Linked DNA regions of Homo sapiens. The protein of the gene in region 1 interacts with the protein of each later gene in a pairwise test. Each region holds a gene or a part of one and is shown in the gene's direction. Other genes may lie near its edges. The genes, in order: PDZD11, ATP7A, SLC5A6 and MAGI2.

What was found.
Region 2: the proteins of PDZD11 (region 1) and ATP7A interact in binary tests that used the Homo sapiens proteins (3 or more experiments, as listed by UniProt).
Region 3: the proteins of PDZD11 (region 1) and SLC5A6 interact in binary tests that used the Homo sapiens proteins (3 or more experiments, as listed by UniProt).
Region 4: the proteins of PDZD11 (region 1) and MAGI2 interact in binary tests that used the Homo sapiens proteins (3 or more experiments, as listed by UniProt).

The regions. Positions count from the first base shown.
Region 1 is NC_000023.11:70,286,903-70,294,136, reverse strand, and holds the start of PDZD11 (PDZ domain-containing protein 11), read left to right. Parts: upstream 1-4,209; 5' UTR 4,210-4,277; exon of another isoform or gene 4,278-4,308; intron 4,309-4,515; exon of another isoform or gene 4,516-4,699; coding exon of another isoform or gene 4,700-4,795; coding exon 4,796-4,882; intron 4,883-5,623; coding exon 5,624-5,707; intron 5,708-5,963; coding exon 5,964-6,020; intron 6,021-6,306; coding exon 6,307-6,405; intron 6,406-6,800; coding exon 6,801-6,861; intron 6,862-7,020; coding exon 7,021-7,055; 3' UTR 7,056-7,234. Other genes in the region: chromosome-associated kinesin KIF4A, read right to left, coding at 3,332-3,446, 3,559-3,678. UniProt on the Homo sapiens protein: Mediates docking of ADAM10 to zonula adherens by interacting with PLEKHA7 which is required for PLEKHA7 to interact with the ADAM10-binding protein TSPAN33.
Region 2 is NC_000023.11:77,983,692-77,990,716, forward strand, and holds part of ATP7A (copper-transporting ATPase 1), read left to right. Parts: intron 1-4,550; coding exon 4,551-5,040; intron 5,041-5,541; coding exon 5,542-6,267; intron 6,268-7,025. UniProt on the Homo sapiens protein: ATP-driven copper (Cu(+)) ion pump that plays an important role in intracellular copper ion homeostasis.
Region 3 is NC_000002.12:27,202,247-27,209,271, reverse strand, and holds part of SLC5A6 (sodium-dependent multivitamin transporter), read left to right. Parts: intron 1-1,481; 5' UTR 1,482-1,621; coding exon 1,622-2,014; intron 2,015-2,329; coding exon 2,330-2,395; intron 2,396-2,737; coding exon 2,738-2,789; intron 2,790-3,178; coding exon 3,179-3,246; intron 3,247-3,767; coding exon 3,768-3,922; intron 3,923-4,340; coding exon 4,341-4,481; intron 4,482-4,681; coding exon 4,682-4,811; intron 4,812-5,404; coding exon 5,405-5,493; intron 5,494-5,926; coding exon 5,927-6,039; exon of another isoform or gene 6,040-6,391; coding exon 6,392-6,459; intron 6,460-7,025. UniProt on the Homo sapiens protein: Sodium-dependent multivitamin transporter that mediates the electrogenic transport of pantothenate, biotin, lipoate and iodide.
Region 4 is NC_000007.14:78,120,664-78,127,688, reverse strand, and holds part of MAGI2 (membrane-associated guanylate kinase, WW and PDZ domain-containing protein 2), read left to right. Parts: intron 1-272; coding exon 273-492; intron 493-1,851; coding exon 1,852-1,995; intron 1,996-7,025. UniProt on the Homo sapiens protein: Seems to act as a scaffold molecule at synaptic junctions by assembling neurotransmitter receptors and cell adhesion proteins. Plays a role in nerve growth factor (NGF)-induced recruitment of RAPGEF2 to late endosomes and neurite outgrowth.

The DNA.
Region 1 (7,234 bases):
AAAAGTAAAAAAATATATTTTTTTAAAAAGAAAAAAGCTTACAGAATAAAGATGCAGAGTGAAAATGTTTATTCCGCTGTGCAATGTATTTGTGTTTTAAGCTAAGTATTATTACAAAAAAGTCAAAAAGATTTAAAAAATTAAAGTTTATAAAGTAAAAAACGTATAATAAGCGAAGGTTAATTTATGATTGAAGAAAGACACAAAGTTTAATAAATTTAGTGTAAGCTAAGTATCCAGTGTTTATAAAGTCTACAGTAGTATACAATAATGTTTTAGGCCCTTACATTCACTCACCACTCATCACTGACTCACTCAGAGCAACTTCCAGTCCTGCAAGCTCCATTCACGGTAATTGCCCTATACGGGTGTATCAGTTTTTACCTTTCATACTGTATTTTTACCTCACCTTTTCTATACTTAGATCACAAATATTTTCCATGATGTTACAACCGCCTACAGTATTCAGTACAGTAACATGCTTTGCAGGTTTGTAGCCTAGGAGCAGTAGGCTCAGGTGTATAGGAGGCTATACTATCTAGGTTTGTATACATGCACTCCACCATGTTCATACAATGACAAAACCGCCTAATAATGCACTTCTCAGAAGGTATCCCTGTCGTTAACTGATGCATAATTATAACTTGCTACTTAATTGTACAGTAGTAGCTTCTAAAACTATAAGCATGGCACCTAAAAGGAACTACAAATGCAAATTTACTTCAAGGTGAAAAAAATAATGACCTTAGGGAAGTCTGTTCCTTATTAGTGTGGCAGACATGTTGTCAAGGAACACAAAGCAAGCTTTCTCTGTTAAATGATCATCATATTTATGTCAAAGCTGTTATCTGCTATTTACCAAGATAATTTTGCAGTCTGAAGGAAAAAACCCTTTAAACTTTGAAACAACGTTTTAATCTAAATGAAAACTTTGAAGTTTTGAAAAAACTTGTTGGTCTAAATGAAGGATCATAAGAAGATGCTAAATTGAGATTTTCACTGTAATAGACCGCTGGTATCAGCTGGCATGACTATGGGGCAAGAGAATAACATTCCATAATTTTCTGCAATACCACAGATATGTGCAGATAGCAATAACTTGGGAAATGAGGTTTTAGTAGTTTTTACAAAATACTTAGGGCTCTGTGGTACCAGGAGTTCAGAGTACAAGAGGGTGCTGTTGAGCTGACTATAAAAAATATTGACTTTGTTTTTGCAACCAAGGGTAATGTTAAGCAAACACATGTATATTGGAATCACTTTCTACTTTATGTTGCCTTTAAAGAACATAATTTAATTCTATCAGTTTCCCAAGTTAAGAATGTAAAAGTAGAACTGTGGTGCTCTTACTAAGCTGTGGAGGTATAGCCTGAGGAATCTGACCAGATAGTGCAGGGTCTGAAAAGCATATTGTTTCAGGAATGGCTAAAGGAAAGGCGGGGATAATTGAAGAGAATTAGGTAGAAACACTTAACGGTTTTCCAAATACTGTATGTAAAAAGGAAAAAGATTATAGTGGAGAAGCCCAGCAGATTAACACCTTAATCAAATGATCAAAATGAACATCAGTAGTAATAGAATAAATCAAAATCATGTGCTGCCCAATAGGCTTCAGTGAGAAGAAAACAGCACCACTTCTGTGATATTCCTGCTAAAAGATACACAACCTGAATCTAATCATAAGTAAATGCCAGACAAAACAATATTGAGAAAAGGTTTACAAAATAACTGGCCTGTAATCTTCAAAGTGTCAAACTCATAAAAGTCAAAAAAAGACTAAAGAACTGTTTTAGAATGGAGACTAAAGAGACAGCAAAACTAAATAAAACGTGATTTTGAACTAGATCTTTTTGCCATAAAATATTTACTGGGACAATTGGTGAAACTTGAATGGGGTTTCAGGAATAGATGGTAGTAATGTAGCAGTGCAAATTTTATTGTTTTGATGGTTGTATTGTGGTAACTTAGAAGAAAGTCCTTTTTTGTAGGAAATATACACTAAAGTATGGGGGGTTATCAGGCCAATGATTCATCTCAAATGGTTCAGGGAAAAAATGTTTTTTATGCTGTTCTTGCAACATTCTATACGTTTGAAATTATTGCATTAATATCTTAAAATTTTGAAACAAAAATTTCAGTGTTCCTTGAGCCATATCATTAAACAAAAAAACGTGAAAAAATATGTGAATAGCTGTTGCCTAGAAGAAGGCTTCTAAAGGAATGAACTAACATCACTGGGTAGAAATTACCAGGAAGCAAATTTCATCTCATTATAAAGATCTTTATAACATAATTAGACTTGTCCAAAACCCAAATCTCAACTGGACTACCTGTGAGTCAGTGAGTTCCCTGTCAAAAAAATTTTAGACACTGGCAGTTCACCTAACAGATATTGTTAGAACGCATTTTTCTTTGGATGAAAAACAAACTAGATGATATACAAATGTCTCTTTCAACTTTAAGGCACTAGCATGCCATGATTCTACTTCTTTTAAACGAACCTCTGTTTTGAATCTTGAATAACCACTGTATTAGAATAATAATTAGACATCTCTCAGGCACTGCTCCCTTCTTTAGAACCCTGCTATGGTCCTCAACAGCATTAAAGACTTAGCTTCCCCAGTAAAGATTATTAACTGGTGATAGTATTCAGAGGCTTTAGGCACTCCCCTTCTCCACCTAAAAGAAGTATACTCATTATTCAAGACCCATCTCAAAGTTTTCCCACTCTGTGAAATTCACCCCAAATTCCCCAAGCAGAGTTAGAGCCATCCTTTTGTTTTTCATACCACTTTGTATGAGAGCAGAGCTACTACTTCCATAGGACTGACTCTGTTGTATATTTTTAACTTGAAAAATTTTTCTTCTAAAAGATAGGTACAAAAAATTTAAAAATTTTTATATATTCAAAATTATTTATGTAGTCATCTATCTCCATTCCTATCCCCTGGACTTTGAACTCCTTCAGGGCCTCGAAGCTATATTATTTATCACCTGAATCCCTCAACAAGCTTTGCAGTGCCTGGGCCTCAAGTAGGTTGGCACACTTATCACCATCAGCAACCACCACAGAGTTTATAATCTAATGAAGTTCCAGGATAAACAAACATATACAAGTCAAAGATGAACAGAACCACATAAAGCAAATACAGAATAAAACTAGCTTCAAGGGTACAGAGACGTTGACAAATGTTATTAGGCTAAGGGCTTCTTGAAGGCAGGAATCATGATTCATCGATTCCTGTATTTGCAGTGCCCAAGCACAGTGCTTGGCACATAGTATATGCTCAAGGAATATATATGTTACGTTCGAGGAATCAAATCGCCTTACCTTTAAATACACCTTTTATGAGTGGCGCTACTGCTGTATTGAAGACTTCTTCCTGTTCAGTAGAGGGATCAAATACAAAATCGTAGGTGAAGGATTTATCTGTACCAACCACCACCTAGAGAAGGCACGGGACAAGGCGTAAGGTTAAAAATGAAAGGCAAGACCACACCCCTCGTTACCATTTGGCCCCAGCTGTTCAGACACAGGCTCTGGACTCTGCTACGCACCTGAGGCTCTCCGGGCACGAAGGAAAGGCACATCTGGCAGCCCTCGCTAATCTCTTTGGGGACCAGAGGGCGACAACGCAGCGCCACTCTTACGGGAATTCCCTTCACCTCTTCCTTCATGATCCTATCTCAGCACCGTCTCTGCGAGGGGGAAAAAGAAGGCTCGCTGATGAATGTTAGTAGGTCAGCAGGGGTGGGAGGGCGTCCTCCCCGGTTCCGACCCTCCTCAGCGGGAACACTGACTTGGGAGATTCACGCTCCATGACTTGGCCAGGGCTGGACCGCCCGTCAGCCCTGCACTCTAAAGAGAGTGCACGGGCTTCTGAAAGGCAAAGAAAAAACTCCAACGGGGACGGCGACAAAGAACCAAAGCCCTAGGGTACTGGGTAAAAACAGGTTCTGAGCTAAGGTGTGCCCCCGTAACTCACCAAACTAAATGTCCCTTCCCCGTTCTCCCTGGGCCTCCCGCCGCCCTGTCCCAGCCGGAGCTTTAACCGCCAAGTTTCAAATCCGTCCCGGAGACGCCAACCAATTGCAGTGCGGACTGCCCGAGGGCGGAGCGCGCACGTCGGCGCGCGCAGGCCGGCGCGGTGGGAAGGGGAGGGTCAGCTCGTTGCACCCTGGCCCGGCCTCTTTTCGACCCTGCGGAGCATCCGCTTCCGGTTCCCAGACTGAATTGTCAGTGAGCGGAGTCTGAGGTCGCTGTGGACTGCCCACTGGTGAGGTGGTGCGGCGTTTATGCGGCTGAGAGTGCGGGTCTCAGGCAGAATGTGGGGCGGGGACGTGGGAGGTGGCTGGTCAGGTGAAGGAAGGGTCGATCTAAGGACCCTACCATTACTAATCACATCTAGGAAATGTGGGGCGGTGCCTTGCCCCGAGTCCCTGCGGATAGTTAACACTCCCTTGGGCTTCGAAAGTAGATCTTTTTAGACTCGACCCTGATTTCCTCTTCTCCAGGTTTGAGACGGTAACATCTGTTTTGCAGGATTGTGAAAAATGAGGTCCTCTTTCTAGAGTACCTGACAGGTTGCTTGGCATCCAGAAGATGTTTAGCTAAGTTAAGAGTTTTCTTCTGTCTTCCTTCTCTCCTCCAACCTTAACACCTAGATATGGGCTGGGCCTGTAGACTGACTGCCTTGGAATGGGTTGGAGCTGCTGTCTGAAACTTGCTGGGCTGCTCTCCCTTTTGAACCACTTTTTGTCTGTTCTGATTCACTCTTCCAGGGCCTTGCCCGAGATGGACAGCCGGATTCCTTATGATGACTACCCGGTGGTTTTCTTGCCTGCCTATGAGAATCCTCCAGCATGGATTCCTCCTCATGAGGTGGGAACCATCTGTATTCCTGAGTAGGAGATTTTTTTCCCCGTGGGCATGAGATGATGCATGAAAGGTAGGATAGCAGGGTTAGAAGGCGAAACGGAGAGTGAATCTTAGCACTTGTAGCCAGAGGACCCAGAAGCTGGATTCTGAGCAACAGGACCCATTGGGAACTTCTTTATGGAAGCCTCCTGCTAGGGTCTGTTCACACCGGTTAATTCTGGAAATTTGGAGCCTTCATTTCCATACTGTTAAGAGGTTCAGCGCGGTGGCTCATGCCTGTAATCCCAGCACTTTGGGAGGCCGAAACAGGCGGATCACCTGAGGTTGGGAGTTCGAGACCAGCCTGACCAACATGGAGAAACCGCGTCTCTACTAAAAATACAAAATTAGCCGGGCGTGGTGGCACATGCCTGTAATCCCAGCTACTAGGGAGGCTGAGGCGGGAGAATTGCTTGAACCTGGGAGGCAGAGGTTGCGGTGAGCTGAGATTGAGCCATTGCACTCCAGCCTGGGCAACAAGAGCAAAACTCCATCTCAAAAAAAAAAAAAAAAGGTGAAGAAATGGGGAGCTACTGGGCTGCCCCAGTGCTATCCATCTACTCATTTAGTCTGTGTTATCTGTTCTACTTAAATTAAGTCTATGACCTTTCCTTTTCCTGACTTCAGGGTAATTCATTAGTGTTTCAGATGAAGGTAGGTGTGAAGTAAGACTGGTAAAATTTCTGGGGTTGCTGTGTCTTGCAGAGGGTACACCACCCGGACTACAACAATGAGTTGACCCAGTTTCTGCCCCGAACCATCACACTGAAGAAGCCTCCTGGAGCTCAGGTGAACTTATGAAACCTTATTTCAGGCTAGATTCATCCATACCACAAATTGGCAGTGTTGGGGGGATGGATTGGAAAGCAGGTGCAGATGTGAGGAAACTTTCCTTCTTGTGGACAGAAAAGCTGAGATAACACTTCTGCAACTTCTGACTTTCCTCTCAGGGACACACAAGCTGAGCTATTGTACGATGATGCTACTAGTTGTTCTTGTGTTTGTGGTCTCCATTGAGCCCCCATTCTGTGCTCTTGTCTTACAGTTGGGATTTAACATCCGAGGAGGAAAGGCCTCCCAGCTAGGCATCTTCATCTCCAAGGTATTTATGCCCAGTAGGCAATATGGATCGTTACTTCCCTTTGTTAAATTAACAGATTGCAGAACCCTAATGTCCCAAGGGCTGAGAGGATGACTCTGGATTCATAGAAGGGGTATAATGGAGACACCCCCTTTCCCACTTAAAACTTTTCATTTGGCAGGCCATCTGTCTGCATACATTGTCACAGAAAAACAATAGCACCATACATTTGAATAGCACCGAATTTCACTGACAGTCTTCTGAAATTATCGCATCCCAATCACATGTATTCTCTCTTTACCAACAGGTGATTCCTGACTCTGATGCACATAGAGCAGGACTGCAGGAAGGGGACCAAGTTCTAGCTGTGAATGATGTGGATTTCCAAGATATTGAGCACAGCAAGGTGAGCACAGTACTTGGGCTGTGGTGCTGCAAGAAGCCATCTCAAATAGGACAGATTGGACAGGAGTAGCCTAATCTGTAACTTAATAAGAAAGCATTTTGCTGGGCACTGTGGTACACGCCTGTAATCCCAGCTACTTAGGAGGCTGAGGCGGGAGGATCACTTGAGCCCAGGAATTTAAGACCAGCCCAGGCAACGCAGCAAGACCCTGTCTCAAAACAAACAAACAAACAAACAAAAAGAGAGAGAGAAAGTAAGCACCTCTCCTGGGAAAGTACAGGAGGGAAGCAGCTATTAGTGACACACAGGTTGGAGTGGCAAATCCCTTTCCCCCTATTATGATTCTGTCTTGGGTCATATCTCTTCATTTGTACAAGCTGCTGTGTTCCTTCCAGGCTGTTGAGATCCTGAAGACAGCTCGTGAAATCAGCATGCGTGTGCGCTTCTTTCCCTACAGTAAGTGCCACTTTCTTTTTTCACTTTCCTGACAGGGCCCTAAGTAAGAACTCTTTAAATACTGATGACTAGAGGCCCTACAAGTTGGGGATAGGGAATCAGGAGCTCAAGCGTGAAGATAACCTGCTCTGTTCCTCCTTTTCTTCTTCTTTCCTTCAGATTATCATCGCCAAAAAGAGAGGACTGTGCACTAGAAAGTTGCAGCCCACAGCCCTTCATGTGGACTCTGTCATGACATGCTAACTAGACTTCAGGGGAGCCACTTCTGTTTTCAGCCCCTCCCTGGAATAGTGAGTTGGGAGGATGGGGAGACAGCTAACCAACTGCATTACCCAAACCATATTGCACTTTTAGTTCCCTAGTTTTCTAGGTG
Region 2 (7,025 bases), 7.7 Mb from region 1:
TTTTCAGAGGAACTTTTTTTTTTTTCCGAGACGGAGTTTCACTCTCTTGTCCAGGCTGGAGTGCAGTGGCACGACCTCCGCCTCCCGGGTTCAAGCGATTCTTGTGCCTCAGCCTCTTGAGTAGCTGGGATTACAGGCGCCCGCCACCATGCCCAGATAATTTTTACATTTTTAGTAGAGACGGGGTTTCACCATGTTGGCCAGGCTGGTCTCGAACTCCTGGCCTTAAGTGATACACCCACCTCGGCCTCCCAAAGTGCTGGGATTACAGGCATGAGCCACCACTCCGGCCCAGAGGAACGATTGATATAATGGAAAAATAGTTCCTCTGAAAATAAAAATAACAACATTGGTTCCTAATAAAAGATTAAGAGAAAAAGACAAGCTGTCGAAATATTGGAGCAATGTGGGGAATGAGGAAGGTGGGGTAGGGCAGAGAAGGGAAGTTATTTTTGGAGCAGGGGTTGGGGTTAGAGGACATATGAAAGGAGAGCAGCACAGACCCGGAATCAGACTGCCGCCAGCACTTTCCAGCTCTATGGAGTCTGCCTGGTTTTGCTCATCACTGTATCTCTAGCAGCTAGCATAGTGCCGGGCACATAATGGACATTCAATAAATATTTGTTGAATACATAAGTACCTTTTTTTTTTTTTGAGGCGAAGTCTTGTTTTGCCGCCCAGCCTGGAGTGCAGTGGTGCAATGTCGGCTCACTGCAACCTCCACCTCCCGAGGTTCTTCAAGTGATTCTTCAAGTGGTTCTTCAAGTGGTTCTTCAAGTGATTCTCCTGCCTCAGCCTCCCGAGTAGCTGGGATTACAGGCACCCACCACCACGGCCAGCTAATTTTTGTATTTTTGGTAGAGACGGGTTTTCCTGCATTGGCTAGGCTGGCCTCAAACTGTGACCTCAAGTGATCCGCACACCTCAGCCTCCCAAAGTGCTGGGATTACAGGTGTGAGCCACCACGCCCAGCCAATAAGTACCATTTTGACTTCCTGCCCAAAGATTTAGCACCCAGAGCTGTACTGTGAATTTGTTTCCTTTGAGACCTTAGGTTTGAAAAGTCTCTTTGCTATCTAACATTCAGAGGCAAAGTTGAGTGCTGTTACCCCAAAGAGGGATACTTTTGTTTGTGCTGAGTGTGGTTGGTCAGCTTTTAAAACAGAAATAGAATTTACTAAAGGAAGTGTTTTCTCATCTGCAGCATGCAAATAGCGTAGGGTACTTTGACTTCTCTTTTGTGTAGTATTTTATGCATAGTTTTCTTATGCCTTTTATAAATAAAAGATAGGCTAAAGCAGTTAGAAAGTATAGCAAACCATCCAGTGACAAAGTGATTTTTTTTTTTGAGACAGTGTCACTCTGTCACCCAGGCTGGAGTGCAGTGGCACGACTTTGGCTCACTGCAGCCTTGACCTTCAGGCTCAGGCAATCCTCCCACCTCAGCCCCTTGAGCAGCTGGGACTACAGGAGTGTGTCACCATGCCTGGGTAATTTTTGTATTTTTTGTGGAGACAGGGTTCCACCATGTTGCCCAGACTGGTCTGGAATTCCTGAGCTCAAGCTATCTGCCCAACCACCTCAGCATCCCAAAGTGCTAGGATTACAGGCGTGTGCCACCTGGCCTGAGGAAGTGATTTTTGCTTTTAAAATGAGAACAATTTCTGATTGGCTATGTTGGTAAATTGACATTTTTGGGGGGGGTGGGTGCGGGGGAACCAGGTCTTGTTTAAGATGTACCGGATACAACGTATTTAAAGGGCAAGAATCCTTTACGTTGGTACTTTATCAGAAAAAGTATAGTAGTACCTAGAGCAATACCACCCAAGAATGGTCTGTGATGATGGAAATACTGTGTATCCGCCCTGTCTGGTAGGACTAACCACATTGGCCAATGAACACTTGAAATGTGGCTAGTGCAACCGAGGAACTGAATTTTTAATCTTATTTAATAGTTTTTTTTGTTTTAAAAAATAATCATCTAGTAAAATAGACTTTTTTTGGGTATATAGTTCTATGAAATTTTTTTTTAGTTTTGTGAATGTTAACACATGTATAGATTTGTTTAACACCAACACAACCAGGACATAGCGCAGCCCTGTTACCCCTAAAAAACTCCCTCTTGCTACCATTTTCCCTACCTCTAACCCCTGGAAACCACTGTTCTGTTCTCCATCTTCCCCTTTAGTTGGAAAGTTTAAATTATTTACAGTCATTTTCTTAACCCTAAAATCACCTCAGGGGAGGGAAATTAAAGTTTAAAAGAGGCCTTCTTTAAAAACACAAGGACACAAAAGCCTTCATTTGATGGTGGCTACTCTTATATTGCATGTCTTTCAATACTATATGTCTCAACTATACGTGGTTTGACTATTCTGCATTTTTTTTTCATGGAAAATGTTATATAGTATTATCCAAAACCAAATATAATTTATTTCCCCACTTCTGTTTTGGATCATTTATGCTAGTGATTTCCTCCATCCCTAAGAACCAGCTAGCCAACTAGAATTATCAGAGTCTTAGAAACTTTCCATGCCATGGGTACATTTCACATTTTCACCCAAATACACAGTCATCAATTATCAAGCTAAAGGAAGAAATAAAAATATGTTCATTAAAATAAGTGAAAGATTTAACTATTGTAGACAATTTAAAGAGAGATTTTCTATGCTGAATTACTTTTAATTATAATTTTGAGTTTTTATTTTATAGAGCAAAGCTTTTCACTAGAAATTAATAACACCTATATTTAACTGCTTTTTTGAATATTAATATCCTATGGCCATCTCAAAAATCAATAGGTCCAGCACTGAATTTATCATCTCTCCTTTCCCTCCACTTTAACCTCTTAATTTCCTCCTGATTTCCTCCTCTCTTTCTGATATCAGTTAATGACGCCACCATCTATCTATCCACTGGCCCAAGCCAGATACCTTTAAGTCATCCTAGTCGTCTCCTTTATCCTATACATCTTGTTAGGAGGCCCTACCCTCCTGAATGTATCTTGGAGCTGCCTCTTTTATCTTTGCCCCCAGTATTCATGTCTTAATTCAGACCCTCTATTGCACTACTTTTGCAATTGCAGTAGCCTCCTAGCTGATAGTCCTCCCTCCTGTATCACTCCACCCTACTACACTATCATCTTCCACACTGCCTCCAGAATGATCCTTCTCTAAAATGAAAATCTAATCACATAATTCTCTGCTTAACTTTTCCATGGCTTCCTATTACCTATAGGATAAATCACAACCATTATTGGCATATAGAACCCCATAATAGAGCAGTTGCCTAATTTTCAAGCCTCTTATCTTTCTCTACTTTTTTGTTTCCATTCATCTGGAATTCTCTGCCTCATATATCCTTGCTGATTCCTGTTTGTCCTTTAACATTCAGGTATTATCTCTCCTAAGAATACTTTTCTGACCCATATTCCCAGGGATGAATGGGTATCCCTTTTCTGTATTCTCTGTCCTATTGTTCCTGTGACATGTTCAGCTTTGTATCCTGAGAATCCCAGTTCCTGACGCACATAATAAGTGCTCAATAAATATTAGTTGCTCAATGTTTAATTTTATATAATTCACTGCTGTTACGAAGAACTTTCCTATTTACTCGTATGATCCTTGTAATAGCCCTGGAAGATAATAGGGCATATTTTCTCATTTTTCAGATGGTAGAACTAATGGGTGTGGTTAGCTAATAAGTGGAGAATTGATGCTGGAACTTAAATCTTCTGACTCCCAACCCAGTATTTGTGTGTGTGTGTGTGTGTGTGTGTGTGTGTGTGTGTGTGTGTCTTCATCATGAATCTTTGTAAGATGTCAGCCAAAGAGATGCAATCATGACAGTAGTTAAATTATATGCAGTAACTAAGCTACAAGAATATAATCATTGTTTTATAATCTAATTGGGCAAAACAATAAAGATGTTCTTATTTTGAACAAAATTAATAGTATGCTCTAGTGACTTAGGGGGATATAGGAGTATATGCTATAAAATCCTATGAATACTGCCTTCACTCATAAACCGGCAGGCTTATACTTTTCTTGCCAACAAAGTTATCCTAATTGAACATTATTTTTATTTTTTTAAATTGACATATAATAGTTATACATATTTTTAGGAAATTGGACATTTTAAAATATTAAACTTCATATTACCTTTTATTTTTCTGTAGCTGATCCTGTTTCATGTATAACCTTTTCAGTTGGTAGAGTGTGAAGTGTTGGAGTAATTTATGAAAGGAATGGAAGGAAAGAGTAGTTTGTACTCTGTTGTGAAATTCTTGGGTGTGTTTGTCAATATACATGTTTCAAATGCCTGATAGGTACCACAGTCACATATGTCTGCATATATAACTTTACCATTCTTGTAGGTACACAAGACATTTTATGTTTCTTTCTAACAAGAAGAGTAAAAATGAAAACTAATAGGGAAACTCCATTAGATTGAGTTGTCTCACTCTTCTTGAATGTGGTGTGATGATTATTATTTTAAATCCTGTGTGATAGAATTTAATTAAACTGACTTTTGGAATTTCCTTCCAAAAGGTATCACTGGAAGAAAAAAATGCAACTATTATTTATGACCCTAAACTACAGACTCCAAAGACCCTACAGGAAGCTATTGATGACATGGGCTTTGATGCTGTTATCCATAATCCTGACCCTCTCCCTGTTTTAACTGACACCTTGTTTCTGACTGTTACGGCGTCACTGACTTTGCCATGGGACCATATCCAAAGCACATTGCTGAAGACCAAGGGTGTGACAGACATTAAAATTTACCCTCAGAAAAGAACTGTAGCAGTGACAATAATCCCTTCTATAGTGAATGCCAATCAGATAAAAGAGCTGGTTCCAGAACTCAGTTTAGATACTGGGACACTGGAGAAAAAGTCAGGAGCTTGTGAAGATCATAGTATGGCTCAAGCTGGTGAAGTCGTGCTGAAGATGAAAGTGGAAGGGATGACCTGCCATTCATGTACTAGCACTATTGAAGGAAAAATTGGGAAACTGCAAGGTGTTCAGCGAATTAAAGGTAATGTGTCTGGTGTTGATTGTTTTGTAAGGCTTAGGTGTCTGTTTTGATCTTTTAACTTTTTGCTTTCTTCTTAAGCATGAGTTTTGAATCCATGAGACTAGAGTGCTTGCTGTATCATTGAGGTACAGCATATTCCCAGGATTAAAAGTTAATGATTATAATTAAAGGTTACATAAACCTTGAACTGAAGAAAAGGCAGCTGGGTTGGCAATTCATGGAATTCAAGGTTCTTAACACAACATGACTAGGGTACTCTTTACCTCTAATATATTTTACTTAGGCATGGAGAAACTTGGAGACCATAGCTACAGTGGTCATATCTCTTACTTGTTTCTAGTCTATGCCAATAACATTTTCTGAAAAGAAAAAAAATTAAGAAAATATGATGACAAGAATGAGAGAGAAACAATTATTTGTGGTTATTGATTTAGAAAACAGAATGTTTTCTGAAGTAGCCCAGGAATAACTGAATTAATTATATTTCTTTTTATTAACTAGTCTCCCTGGACAATCAAGAAGCTACTATTGTTTATCAACCTCATCTTATCTCAGTAGAGGAAATGAAAAAGCAGATTGAAGCTATGGGCTTTCCAGCATTTGTCAAAAAGCAGCCCAAGTACCTCAAATTGGGAGCTATTGATGTAGAACGTCTAAAGAACACACCAGTTAAATCCTCAGAAGGGTCACAGCAAAGGAGTCCATCATATACCAATGATTCAACAGCCACTTTCATCATTGATGGCATGCATTGTAAATCATGTGTGTCAAATATTGAAAGTACTTTATCTGCACTCCAATATGTAAGCAGCATAGTAGTTTCTTTAGAGAATAGGTCTGCCATTGTGAAGTATAATGCAAGCTCAGTCACTCCAGAATCCCTGAGAAAAGCAATAGAGGCTGTATCACCGGGGCTATATAGAGTTAGTATCACAAGTGAAGTTGAGAGTACCTCAAACTCTCCCTCCAGCTCATCTCTTCAGAAGATTCCTTTGAATGTAGTTAGCCAGCCTCTGACACAAGAAACTGTGATAAACATTGATGGCATGACTTGTAATTCCTGTGTGCAGTCTATTGAGGGTGTCATATCAAAAAAGCCAGGTGTAAAATCCATACGAGTCTCCCTTGCAAATAGCAATGGGACTGTTGAGTATGATCCTCTACTAACCTCTCCAGAAACGTTGAGAGGAGCAATAGAAGACATGGGATTTGATGCTACCTTGTCAGGTAATTATCATTTTTTCTTTGATTACCCTAATGTTCTTTTACTTCCATTTTGCTGCTTCTTTTGGCATTTATCAATGAGAAATGATTCATAGGCACTGTAATTCCACTTTTGCAAATATGTCCTATGGAGGTAGCCAGCAGTATATACAAAGATGCATAAGGATGTTTGTATAATTGCTTATGATATTTAAAAACTGGAAACAATAACTCGTGGTGCAACAATAAATAACTCATGATGAAATGCTATGAAGTCATAAAACATTATGGTATTAAAGATAATTAATGCCACAGGAAGGTGTCTGAGGTATTTTGTTAAATGAAAAAAAGCTGAAAAGCTATATATACAATGTGATCAAAATTTTATAAAGAAATGTATCTGAATTTACGCCATGTATATATTGTTTATGTATATGAATAAGATTCCTGGTAGGATATGAACCAAAATTTTAACAGTGATTATCTTTGGGTGGTAGGATAAATGTGATTTTTGTTTCCATTGTGTTTCCTGGTTTTATAAGTTGTTTTTACAATAAGAATGTATGTATGTAGCTATGTATTTATATAATGGGGGAAGCCAGTGCTCTTTTAAAAACAAAAGTAGTTGAAATAAATAATAGGATTTTAACTATAATTTTATATTTAGGCATTCAAATTAAACTGACTCCAGAGCTGTCCCAAAGTTTTCGTATTTCCTGACAGCTCTTACCTTTGAACTGAAACAAAAAATGTATATTCAATGGAATTTAATTATGTGAAAT
Region 3 (7,025 bases), on another chromosome or scaffold:
AAGTACCCCAGAGGATTGCCTTTGAAGACAATATGATACGCTTGGAGAACAGACAGGGTGGATGGTGAATCCCTAGACCTGGGTTCTAATTTATGCTCTGACAATAGTCGGCTCTGTGCTTTTGGAAAGGTCACTTGAACCATCTGAGCCTTAGCGTGTTTATCTGTGAAATCGTCAGTGGTGGGGGGTTGGTTGTAATAGTGGTGTCCAAAGATTTAAGATTTTAAATATTATGATCCCTTCCCTCTTTCTCTGAGGATTGTGGTGTATTCTTGGGGGATTAACATTTCTTGTGCAGGAGTTAGAAAATCAACTTTCAACTTTCCCATGTTTTCAGTTCCTTCTTTCCAACTCCCTCCCGCACAGAGTGCCAAGAGTACTTTAGGCTGAAAGGCTAATCCATCTAGGAATGCTGTTGAATATGAGCTCCCTCTTCCCTGTTCTGGAGCCTCTAGGGCTGAGTTGGAGTTTGGGGGCCATAGGGTGATAGGGCCATTTGGAACACAGCCATTGGTTCCCTGAAGGGGCCAGAACAAATGACTGCTGAGCTTCACCCCACCCCCAATTCCTGATCTCTCACCTCAGCTACTCATAGAGCCAGATCCTCAGCTCTGCAGCTCCAGGCAACTCTGCCTCAGAACAGGGATTGCTTCTCCAGGTAGGTGTCTGTCCCCAGCAGGATACGACCACTCTCTTTGGCTGGTCCCTTTGCCTCTCAGCTCCGTGACTGGGTTGCTTCTCTCCAGAATGGAGAATCGTCATTCTGAAACCCTGACTCCAGCATGGTGCCCTCTCACCTTTCCCCTCTCACTTTTGAATCCAGCCGCTCTTCCTGCGTCTGCTGTTGACTGTGATGTTGCAGGTAGAGGGGCTGAGAGGTGGGTGGCAGCACTTATCTAGTGGTGTTGGGGAGAACCTTAAGAAAGGGGTTGGCCTGGGGACGCCTGAAATGGAGTCTGTGGCTGCCACAGAGGCAGTCTCACTGATGATCAGTTAGAAGGGTGACACTGGGGATCACAGGAGGCGAGGGCCGAGGCCAGGGGCAGTAGGGGAAGCCCTGCTGCCATTAGTCTCCATGCTGTGTTTCCTGCTGGGCTGTGGCGCCAGGCTGGGCTCTGCTGGCTTAGTGTATTGTAGTGACTGGGTCTGTGCCTTCAAGTGGGGCTGGGAAATTCTGCTAAGAAACTTAGGCTAGAGTTTATTTTTCTTTTGGTACTCGGGTGGAGACCTAAGAAGGTTGTTGAATTTCACAGCTGTGCATACTCAAAGGTCCTGGCCAAGTTATATTGTCTCCTGGCTGTCGCACTCTGATGCTTCTCCCTCACTTATGTCCCCTACCAAACCCATACCAGGGCCTCTAGACCTTGAAGGGCTACCACTATGCTGGCTGGTCCACTTCTGATGGCATGCGATGTACAAGGCCCAAGGGTGAATGGCTACCAAGGCCAGATAGGCCTCACTAAGAGCTAATTCCTTTGCAGCTCACCCTGGACAGTATCACTCCGTGGAGGAAGACTGTGAGACTGTGGCTGGAAGCCAGATTGTAGCCACACATCCGCCCCTGCCCTACCCCAGAGCCCTGGAGCAGCAACTGGCTGCAGATCACAGACACAGTGAGGATATGAGTGTAGGGGTGAGCACCTCAGCCCCTCTTTCCCCAACCTCGGGCACAAGCGTGGGCATGTCTACCTTCTCCATCATGGACTATGTGGTGTTCGTCCTGCTGCTGGTTCTCTCTCTTGCCATTGGGCTCTACCATGCTTGTCGTGGCTGGGGCCGGCATACTGTTGGTGAGCTGCTGATGGCGGACCGCAAAATGGGCTGCCTTCCGGTGGCACTGTCCCTGCTGGCCACCTTCCAGTCAGCCGTGGCCATCCTGGGTGTGCCGTCAGAGATCTACCGATTTGGGACCCAATATTGGTTCCTGGGCTGCTGCTACTTTCTGGGGCTGCTGATACCTGCACACATCTTCATCCCCGTTTTCTACCGCCTGCATCTCACCAGTGCCTATGAGGTGAGCAGGGACAGAAGGGAGAAGTGCGTGGGACACGGGTTGGGGTGGAGAGGAGGGACAGGCACATAGGAAGGACCTGGGACCCTAGACCTCCTCCACCTAATGAGAGGGACAGAAAACTCATTGTGTGTTTATAATTCTTTCTCAGTGATGTTAGGTATAGGGGCAGGATTGGAGAGGAGGGTGCTATGCCGAGTAGGACTCAGAGTGGGTATGGGTTGGATATTCCCTCATGTTCCTGAGCATCTTGAGGGAATTTGTCTGTGAGTTGTCGGGGTGAAGTCAGGAGAAAAATCTTTTTTTCTGTATACCCAGTACCTGGAGCTTCGATTCAATAAAACTGTGCGAGTGTGTGGAACTGTGACCTTCATCTTTCAGATGGTAAGCAGAATGAGGATAGAAACCGAGCCTAGGGCATGTTGGGGGACCTGAACGCAAGCATGCTGAGGGAATTGGAGTCTCCCCTGCTCTCAGATTGGCAGGATTGAAATTCCTGCTAGAGGTTAGCATCTGTGAGGACCCCAGAGGCATCCTGCTGCCCATGCCTTCCAATTCCAGCACAGATACTGTGGTGGCAGCAAGCCAGAATTTGAGAGGAGAAGGAAGAGGGAAGTGAGCCTAGGTGAGGGGAAGCCATGGGCATATTGGCGCTGAGGCCCATCTTTCTTCCTCTCTCTTCCCACCATTCTCCGGCCCCCATCACATTTTTTCCACATGCAACAGGTGATCTACATGGGAGTTGTGCTCTATGCTCCGTCATTGGCTCTCAATGCAGGTGAGGAGTCACACAGCCCCTGGCTTTCAGCCGTGGTAGGTTAGGAAAGCACCTTTGGGAGAGGCAGATGGAGGAGCGTATGTGGAAAAGAACCTGACCTTGAATGGGGAATTAATTCACCGCTTGGGCCCTTGGGTGGGTCTCTACCAGAGGAAGGCTTGGTCCACCTCAATTGACAGCTAGTAACATGTTACCATGCCCTATCTGAACTGGTTAGTCAATATCTTTTGGTGGAGCTCTGCAAACATTTTTCTCCGTTGTGGTGAATGATTTATTTCATTGTTAATGACCAATGCTTTATCTCTGTGGCATGACGTGATTGCCCTACCAGGGCTTCTCCCCTGGGGAACCCTTTTCCAGGGATAAGAATGTGGCTTCTATGCTTACAGTGACTGGCTTTGATCTGTGGCTGTCCGTGCTGGCCCTGGGCATTGTCTGTACCGTCTATACAGCTCTGGTAAGTGCAGTAAGCCGTGGTGTGGGGAGGGGAAGGGATGAAGTAAGGAGGGGACATGGGAAGAGAAGGAAAAGAAGAGATAAGCTGAGAATATAGATGAGGAGAATAGGTGAAATTCTGGGGTGGTAAGATTTATGATAGGATTTAGCAGTGGGGATGGTATATGAAGGTAGAGGATGGGATGGGAATGATGTCAACAGGGTCACAGCAATTACATGCCTAATGGCAGGAGAGTCCCCTCACTGGTAGTATGTTCTTAGGGTGGATGGTTTCAGGAGTGTCCAAGGGAGAGAATATAGTCATGGGTTCTTAGTTTCTGTTTCTGGTTGGGTCAGTAAAGCCCCTTCGTCATCCCTCTTTTATACATATCACCAGAGACAGAAACTAAAAACTGGCTTCAGGCTGCAAAAAGCCTAAAACAAAACAAAACAAAACAAAATGGAGCAACAACAAAATAAGGCAGGTTGGACAAGCTGGGTTTAGAAGGCCTCTGTGGCAGGTTTGCTGTGCTTTCCTTGCAGGGTGGGCTGAAGGCCGTCATCTGGACAGATGTGTTCCAGACACTGGTCATGTTCCTCGGGCAGCTGGCAGTTATCATTGTGGGGTCAGCCAAGGTGGGCGGCTTGGGGCGTGTGTGGGCCGTGGCTTCCCAGCACGGCCGCATCTCTGGGTTTGAGTAAGTATACCCCTACTCCTGGCTGGGGTCTGCAGTGCCTGGGCGCTGAGCCCATCCTAGAGGCTGGTCTTGGCTATAGTAAGCAGAAGGTAAACTGGGAAGCCTGAGGTGTAACAGCAGACAGTGGGAAACTGGTCCTGCAGAGATGGAGGGTGATTACAGGTGCCCGGCTAGTGTTTATAGAGAGTCAGGACATTACCTGGGATGAGTACCTGGAATGAGCCTGGGGTGGAAGAATGGAGCCTCCCTCTAACTGGCTGTGCTGTCTCTCGAGTGCACCCAGCTTCTTGCTTTCAGTGTCCCCCTTGGCCCTAGCAGTGGTGTCTCTCCTTTCCTGTCCACTGACTCCTGTTGCCAAGAGGGCAGGAAGGCTGTGTCTCTCAGGCTTTGCACAATGACTGGGTGGTGTCTGTTACAGGCTGGATCCAGACCCCTTTGTGCGGCACACCTTCTGGACCTTGGCCTTCGGGGGTGTCTTCATGATGCTCTCCTTATACGGGGTGAACCAGGCTCAGGTGCAGCGGTACCTCAGTTCCCGCACGGAGAAGGCTGCTGTGCTGTGAGTGCAGGGACAGGAAGGGAGTGGAGCAAGGTCTAGGGGAAGGGGTTCCCCAGAGATAATTGGGGTGGGGCAGGATGCCAGAGTGCATACACATCCACTGTGGTCAGGATGTGGGTCTCCTTTCTGGAGGTCAGGGGCACACACCTGAGGGTGTCTGTTAACGCCGGCTCTCCTCCTGGCACTGACCTCTTTTGCAGCTCCTGTTATGCAGTGTTCCCCTTCCAGCAGGTGTCCCTCTGCGTGGGCTGCCTCATTGGCCTGGTCATGTTCGCGTATTACCAGGAGTATCCCATGAGCATTCAGCAGGCTCAGGCAGCCCCAGACCAGGTGAGAAGGCGCTGTTCTGTTCCCATGAGGGCAGGCCTGGCCCCACAACAGGAGTGTCTAGGTAGGAAAGGACTGACTGCAGAAAGGACTCCCACCCTGGGTGGGAGACGGTTGTAAAATCCTTTCCCACTCTGAGATGCTAGGAATCTAGCATGTGAGGATCGCGGTCCCTAGCATCACCTAACCACAGTGCTCATCCTACTGGGGTGAGGACCTACCCTTACTGACTCCCCATTGGGCTCCATGTGCTCTGCTGGGAGCTATCACATACCTGGTCTCACCTAAGCCTCTAACAGCCTCATTTCACAGAGGAGAAAACAGACTCAATGAGGTAGCCAGTAAGCAGAAGTCACACTAGTAGCCAGAAACAGAGCTGCGGGCGAATTGTGTCATTCCCTCTGTAGAGCTCATTTTCTCTCCACTTAATGTGTAGACACTTGGGTCAGCAGAGGTGCCCCAGGCCCTGGCTTCCCTTGTAATGCACCCAGTCTCGGTAGACTCGCTGGGGCACATGTAAAGGGAGCTTCCCTGCAGAGCCGGCCCTGGGAAGACCCCTCTCTGAGGACTGCTGTGTACCTCCGCTCTGCTTGCAGTTCGTCCTGTACTTTGTGATGGATCTCCTGAAGGGCCTGCCAGGCCTGCCAGGGCTCTTCATTGCCTGCCTCTTCAGCGGCTCTCTCAGGTACCCACTTTAACGATTTCCCTCAGGCCTGGTGCACCTGACCCCTATTTGGTACAAGGTGATGGGTGGAGCGGGGTGATAGTGGGTGGGGAATCCCTCTAAGTTTCTCACTGTGCCTGCCCCATCTGTGTGCATGACAAGGGATAGCTCATCTTTGTAGGCCACAGCACAACAGAGATACCCCTGTTTTGGTTAAGAGTTCTTTTATGGTACCAGAAATTGATCTACTCGAATGAAACCCATATCCACATTCAAAAAAGGACTGTGTCCTTGCCTTCCAGGCCCGCTCTGAGGTGGCATCAAGTCCAACTATGAGGAGGTTTCTTGGTGGTACCTGTCATCTCCCCGCTTTAGGACACCATTTCCTCCATAGAGTCCCATAGAGCTGACAATTTTGCCTCGCTCAACTCCTCATCCTCTTCCTCTTTTTCAGCACTATATCCTCTGCTTTTAATTCATTGGCAACTGTTACGATGGAAGACCTGATTCGACCTTGGTTCCCTGAGTTCTCTGAAGCCCGGGCCATCATGCTTTCCAGAGGCCTTGGTGGGGTTATGCTTCCTCATCTCTTCAGTCTGGGTCTTTCTAAGCTTCATCCTGACCATTGTCATCAGTTTGCTGTAAAACACCCACTTTATCCGGGGCTCAGCACTTGCCTAATGAAGCACACAACCTTCCCTGCATGCATGGTTGTTTCCATCTCAGGGCATGTCCTAGGGAGGTCTCTGAGTCACATAGGAGTGAGGACTTGGTGGGAGGAAGCTGGGGCGTGATGTAATATGCCTTTTGTTTCCAGAGAGACAGAGGTGGTAGTTTGGCTGGGCAGGGAGCCTTGCTTTACCCCATTGCTTGTGTTAACTCACACCTTCTTGTTTCCTCTCCTGTCCTTTTCCCCCAGCCTTTGGCTATGGGCTGCTTTGTCTAGGAATGGCCTATATTTCCTCCCAGATGGGACCTGTGCTGCAGGTAATAACTATAGAGGGTAGGAAGCAATTTTAAGGGAGAGAAGGAATTGATTGAAACAGGAAGTTGAGAAGGGCAGCTATATTGAGGGGAATGACCGGGGGGCAGGCGTAAGAGATTCCCCTTTGATGGACCGTCTTTACTGTGAACAGACTTGCAAGCAGCCAGAGGACGCAGGGTCATTCCTGGGATGTTGTAGGCTGAGAGAGAGCTAAGGATCAGCCTCAGAGAACTCAAAACACATCCCTCTCCATCAGCCCCCTAGCAGCCTTTCCTGCCCTCTGGAGTTCTTTTTTTTTTTTTTTTTTTTTTGAGACAGAGTCTCATTCTGTTGCTCAGGCTGGAGTGCAGTGGCGCGATCTCAGTTGACTGCAACCTCCACCTCCCACATTCAAGTGATTCTCCTGTCTCAGCCTCCTAAGTAGCTGAGGGACTACAGGCATGTGCCACCGTGTCTGGCTAATTTTTGTATTTGTAGTAGAGACGGGGTTTTACCATGTTGGCCAGGCTAGTCTGGAGCTCCTGACCTCAGGTGATCCTCCCGCCTCGGCCTCCCAAACTGCTGGAAT
Region 4 (7,025 bases), on another chromosome or scaffold:
CATCCATGAGTGCTTTTTCACAAGGTTCTGGTTGAACCATCATTTTTACCTTGACTTCGTAAGGAGCCAAATAAAAAGCATACAATATGGCATTTGTCAGAGATTTTTAAATAATATTTAACCTTCTCATAATCCTGAGCATCCAACAGGACCACCGAGAGGAGTGGTTTGTGTGAGCTGTCATGGCTGGCCCACCTCTGGAGGCCGTGTGATCACTCTAGCCTCTTTAGAATGCAGAGTTACAAAAGCAAATCCCATTTCCATTGATTTAGTTACAGGTCGGAAGTGAAAGCAAGGCAAGATGTGAAACCAGACATCCGACAGCCTCCATTCACAGACTACAGGCAGCCCCCGCTGGATTACAGGCAACCCCCAGGAGGGGACTACCAGCAGCCCCCACCCTTGGACTACAGGCAGCCTCCCCTACTGGACTACAGGCAGCACTCCCCCGACACCAGGCAGTACCCTCTGTCGGACTACAGACAACCCCAGGTACCTCCTCCCGGAGAGCAGGGTGGGTCCTGACCAAGGCTTCCAGAGAACTGCAAGGAATGAAATAGGAGAGGCAGAGGAAAGAGTACCTGTCTGGGATGGAGAGCTGAAGTTCTATTCCTAGTTCTGGTAACATCGGGGTAACACCTGCATCCTCAGAAACATGCTGGATAAATAAATCTATTTCAGAATAAAGCAGGACAATAAATAAATATGGATAAATACATAAATAAATAGCGGATGAGTAGTAATGGAATAAACTAATCCCTGCTAATACTAGCTAACTCCTTGTACGTTTCCTTGTCAAAGTTTTAAAAATGCTCTAACCTGGGACCTCTGAGAGTGCTGCTAATGCAGAAAATTTTATAGATGCTAGCAGTGGAGGTATTTTAGGTCCATATTTTTTTACGTGGCCCCCTACCTGCCACTCTGTGATAAAGGGCCAAGCCCCTGTGCGTAAGAATAAGACCAGGCTTGGCTTCACAATCCAGAGTGTAGCGCCTGCCACAGCCAACAACTCTCTGTCTACACAACCAGTGTCACTGTTGTTATGATTATTTGTTGATGTGCTTCATGTCAACTTCCTTAACTTCTCTGAGATTCAGTTTCCTAAAGGGAGAGTCTTCCTTACAGGCCAGGATGAGGATTCAACATTTATGAAAAGAGTCTAGACCAGAGTTTGGTATCTAGAAAATATTTCCTACTTCGTAACTACATACCAAGATATAAATTAAGTACAATCTCAACTCTATCAGATTACATTGTGTTTTATTATGAATTGAAGATCAACTTTATGCCCAAAGATTTTAAGAATAGTGAAGATCAGAGAATCTTGGACATACTGCATTTTAGGTAAAAGAGAAATTGATTTTGTACATTCCAACTTGATATTCAATAGTCTGTGCAACTGAGAGATCTAATTATCAGATCCCACTAAATTTTACTTTTCTAATCAGCAAACTCTGTAATTTGTACACACACACACACACACACACACACACACCTGACATTTATTTATGGTGCTCAATAGCAGTGAATGAGAGAAGTAAAAGGAGAGATGATGTCACTCAGGCCTATCTGTAATCATTCCACGTTTGCCAAGTAAACTGATGAATACCAAAGTAAACAAGCTACACAGTAATTCTTTGATGACCAAGTAAACTGTGCTCTGGCCTGCTCAAACCTTTGGAATTTTGTCTTTCATTTGGGTAGTTTATGAAGCCAGATTACGACTTCTCCCAACATCATGTCATTTGGAATACATTAACTAAGAGACAGAAGGAGAACACAGAGACTAGCCACAGAAGCTTCTCTGATAACTAAATAATTATTTATTCCATTTTCTCCCCAACCCCAAAGGATTTTGATTATTTCACTGTGGACATGGAGAAAGGAGCCAAAGGATTTGGATTCAGCATTCGTGGAGGAAGGGAATACAAAATGGATTTGTATGTGTTGAGACTGGCAGAAGATGGACCAGCAATAAGGAATGGGAGGATGAGGGTAAGAACAGTCTCTTTTTATAGAATTGCTTAATTCTGAAAGAAAAACCGACTGTGGTATTGGAAGAGTACTGAAGCATGCTGTCAAGCGGGGTTGCTGTAGGTTTGCCCTCTTTCTAGTTGATGATGACCCAGTTTCTTAAAAGTCTGGCCACTTGCTATTTTATAATATCTCTCATTCTCATTTTTCTGCTTATGACCTTCTAATTGATTAACCTCAGTAAAGTACTATTTTTCTAAAGAGCAAATGAAAGAAATCTAAGAAATAGCTTGAAAAGGAAACATTATTTCTCCATAATTCTTTCTATGGTTTGATGATTCTGTTTTGATTAAGGTTGAATCTTTTGAAATTTATTTTTAGTTTTGTGCTTTTTCCCCCATATTGATTAATCACATGGTTTTGCGGGACTTTTAGGAAATTTTTCCTTTGTGTTGACTGGTCTTTTGGTTTGATACTGGGCAGACAGAAGCATTAGGAGTAAAAGGGATTTGGCTTCTTGGATACAGGTTGTTCTTAAAAATGACAGCAGGGGCCGGGCGTGGTGGCTCACACCGGTAATCCTAGCACTTTGGGAGGCTGAGGCGGGAGGATCACAAGGTCAAGAGATGGAGAACAACCTGGCTAACACTGTGAAACCCCATCTCTACTAAAAATACAAAAAAATTAGCCAGGCGTGGTGGCGGGCGCCTGTAGTCCTAGCTACTCAGGAGGCTGAGGCAGGAGAATCGCTTGAGCCCAGGGAGGCGGAGGTTGCAGTGAGCCAAGATCGTGCCACTGCACTCCAGCCTGGGCAACAGAGTGAGAATCTGTCTCAAGAAAAAAAAAAAAAAAAGACAGCAGCTAGAAATTTTCCAATTAAAGTTAAGAGTAGATTTTTTCATTTAATAATTACTTTGAGGCATCTGATTGATGGGTAACTGATTCTTCATTTAAGGGTATAAAACAAAGCTTGTTAACAATATAAAATATTAGTCTCTTTACTCTCTCTGTGTGTTTGTGTGTGTGTGTGTGTCGGTGTATGAATAAAATCTAGAATTTATTCTTGCCCTCCCTCCTGCCTCTTTAAGTTAATAAAGAAAAGCTGTGGCTTTGGGGTTCCGGAACCTCAGGTTCTTGTGCAGAGCCTCACCAACCAATTTTCCCTGATGGCTGAATCTGTTATTTCTACCACCAAGTCTGCATTTCTATGATACGCATTTCCAAGTCAGAGGATTATCCACAGTCCAAAAGCAGAAGGCATGCACATCATGTCTTTGTTTCTCCCCACTACCACAATCCTTTGACAGCTGGGAAGCATCCAAGTTGGAATTTAAACCCAGGCAGGGCTGACACCAGAGACTGGCAGCCCTCCCCGTGATCTAGCACCAGCCTCCTCTTACCCCGTCTAGCCCTGATTTGAAGATGGGCCTCCACATGGTTTCCTGGCTCTACAGCTTCCCTATAAGCCAGAAGGACACTTTCTTAACCTGCTATAAGGCCAGCTCACAAGCAGTTAAGTAAAACAAAATTAATCTTTCCAGTGCAGGTGAAACACAGTAGGAAGACCATGTGCAAAATGGCCAGAGCCCTGTGAGAGATAGAGACCCACGGTGGACTACAGGGCTGGTCTCTGTCGGTTACAAACAGTGGCCATGTATTTTCACAAGGGATCTAAATGACTCGCTGCTGGATATACACAGTACTCCCAAGGCAAAGAAGCCTAAATAGAGAAATACCCTTGCAGGAAAAGATTCCTCTTTCTTACAGAATTTAAGCCAGAGCAATGGTTCTCAGCACGGTTCCTGGCATCAGCATCACCTGGAAACTTGGTAGAAATGTAGATTCTCTAGCCCCACCCAAAACTGCTGAATCAGAAACTCTAGGAGTGGGGTCACCAGGCTATGTTTTAGGAAGCTCTTCAGGTGAAACTCTGAGGTTTTACCTTCCGAGGTTTTATTATAGATACCTGTGTCAACTGCAATCCAAAAATATTACATAAAATTTTTCAGAAATAAACAATTATAAATTTTAAATTGTGCAGCGTTGTGAGTATCGTGCTGAAATTTTGTCCTTCCCAGAAGGTGAAACAGCCCTTTATCCACACTGTAGATGCTACCTGCCCACTGGTTACTCAGCAGCCCTCTCGATTATCAGATTGACTATCATGGTATCGCACTGCCCGTGTTCAAGTAACCGTTGTTTTACTTAGTAATGGCCCCAAAGTGCAAGAGTAGTGATGCTGGCATTTTGTTATAATTGTTCTTTTTTTATTGTTTTTGATCCCTTGCTGTGTCTAATTTGTAAATTAAACTTTATCATAGATATATATAGGGAAAACAGTGTATATAGGGTTAGTTCTGCCTGTGATTTCAGGCATCCGCTGGAGATGTTGGAATATATGCAAGAGGTATGAGAGGGAGCTACTATATTCACTTTATCAAAAAACCAGTGGAGAGTAGCAAGTTTTGACTTTAATTATTATACTAGATGGTTTTTCAACATCAGTTAATACTGATGTATTAAAAGTTGAATAGATAAAACAAAACACAATCTGTGAATGCAGAAAATAAGGGGAATAATAAAAAGAGATATATCATTGTCACGTCTGCTTGCTTTTCTTCAGTCAGTCAAGAAGGCTGGTGTCATAAGAGAAACACAATGGACATTCAGATTTTAAGGAAAAGGATAATAAATTATTAGAAAATATTACTGGAGCTGTTTATAAAAAGAAGACTTACGTTTGTAAAATGGCCTAATAAAATTGGGAGGGATGAAATTTTCATAGCTAGTGAATAAAATCTCTGATACAAAGCTCCTAGGAATATAACCTAATTAAAAGCCAAAACTAAATAGAAAACACAGGCAAAAAATAATGAACATAAAAAATAATATTGGCAAAGCTCAGTAAAACAGGGAATGTAAGAAATCAGGAGACATTTGGAGGGAAAGAATAGAAATTCTAAGTGCTTAAATAAAAATCTGAGAGTCAAGTTAAAAGAGAAATCTGAAAGGAGATCGTTTGCTCTTAAAATGGTAAAATATTTTCCTGTTTCCATAAAAGTGTAATATAGTTCGCATTTCCATAAAATGTATTTTTATGATGAAAAAGAACATTATTTCATAACTTCATCACTTGCAGCTGGGTACCATTTGTGTATGCCTATTTAGCATCACATAAGCTTATTTATAAGATGGTTTACCTACTTTCTGAAACTCACATGATGCAAAAGTCTGCCTGCAATGGGCTTTGGAATGACTAAAACATTTTGTTCAACCAATCAATGCACAAAAAAATATCATTTGCCCATCTTTTTTTTAAAGGAAAAGCAACATTCCCTGAAATTAGCTTCTTCTAAATTTGTCACCTTTCCTTCTATAGACCAGATATAACTAGTCAATACAAAAGCATCTTGGTTTATATATTGTTTTTATTAAACATAAAACGATTTACAAGAATATTTCTAACATATGTAATAAGTGTAAATACTAACCATGATTCAAGGACCCATGAACCCATAGCCCCACTTAAAAAACAGAACATTACCAAGCTCCCATGATTTCATTCTCCTCCTACTCTCCAGCCCTCAGAGGGAACCACCTTCCTAAATAAAGCACTTGACATTTCTTCTGTTGTTACCACAGATGTGTGTATCTCTCAACTATAACCTTTAGCTTGGTGCACTTTGTGAACTTTATGTAACTGAACCATACTGTACATGTTCTTCTCTGTGGTTTGCTTTCTATATGTTATGTTCATGAGATTCATCCAAGGTTGGTGCATGAAGCTATAGTCCATTTATTTTTCACTGCTATAAGTTATTTCATTATGTGAATATGCTACAACCTATAATAATTATCTATTTTTCCATTTTATGGACATTTGAGATTTTCCCTGTCAATTTACACTTTGGTTGTTTCCAAGTTTGTTGTAACTCATACAATCTTTGTACATCTTTCCTGCTGTACCTATGCAAGACTTTCTCTAGACTAGACTAGATGCCTTGGAGGGCACAAATTTAACTTACCTAAGTAACACAAAAGTATTGTCCAAGGTGGTTTTACAAAGTTATACTTGTATTAGCATATGTAAAAAAGTTTTTCTTACTACACACACTCACAAGATTTGTACGTCAGACTTTTAAACTCTCATTCTGGTAGGTAGAAAATTATATATTTTAGATTTGGATTTGCATTTCTTGATTACAAATTCATATTCATCATTTTTTCTTATATTTATTAGACGTTCATGTTCTCTCTTAACTAAAAAATGCCTGTACATGTCTTTCCTCATTTTCTGTTGAATATTTCTTCATGTTGATTATAGAAATGCTTATATATTATTGGTGATCTTTTTCATCAATTAATGTGATACAGATATCTTATGCCAGCTTATGGCTTGCAGTTTCACTTTCTTTATGATGCTCTTTGATAATGAGAAAGTCTTAATTTTAGCGTAATTGGCTTAACCCTTTTTTTTTTTTTTATAGTTTCTGCTTTCTGTGTCTTGTTTGAGAAATCATTCTCCAAGACATGGTCTTAAACGTCTTCTCTTATATCTTCTTCTAAAAGTTGTATAGTTTTACTTTTTATATCTAAGTATTTAATCACCTACAGTTGATTTCTCTGTATGATATAAGGTAGAACCTCAATCTCAATTTTTCCATATGGATAACCACATGTCACAGCATCATTATTTTTTTTTTTTTTTTTTTTTGAGACGGAGTCTCGCTCTGTCGCCCAGGCTGGAGTGCAGTGGCGGGATCTCGGCTCACTGCAAGCTCCGCCTCCCGGGTTCACGCCATTCTCCTGCCTCAGCCTCCCAAGTAGCTGGGACTACAGGCGCCCGCCACTACGCCCGGCTAATTTTTTGTATTTTTAGTAGAGACGGGGTTTCACCGTTTTAGCCGGGATGGTCTCGATCTCCTGACCTCGTGATCCGCCCGCCTCGGCCTCCCAAAGTGCTGGGATTCCAGGCGTGAGCCACCGCGCCCGGTCCACAGCATCATTATTTAATGAGTATTTCTTTGTCCCACCCCCCACCAATCTGCAAT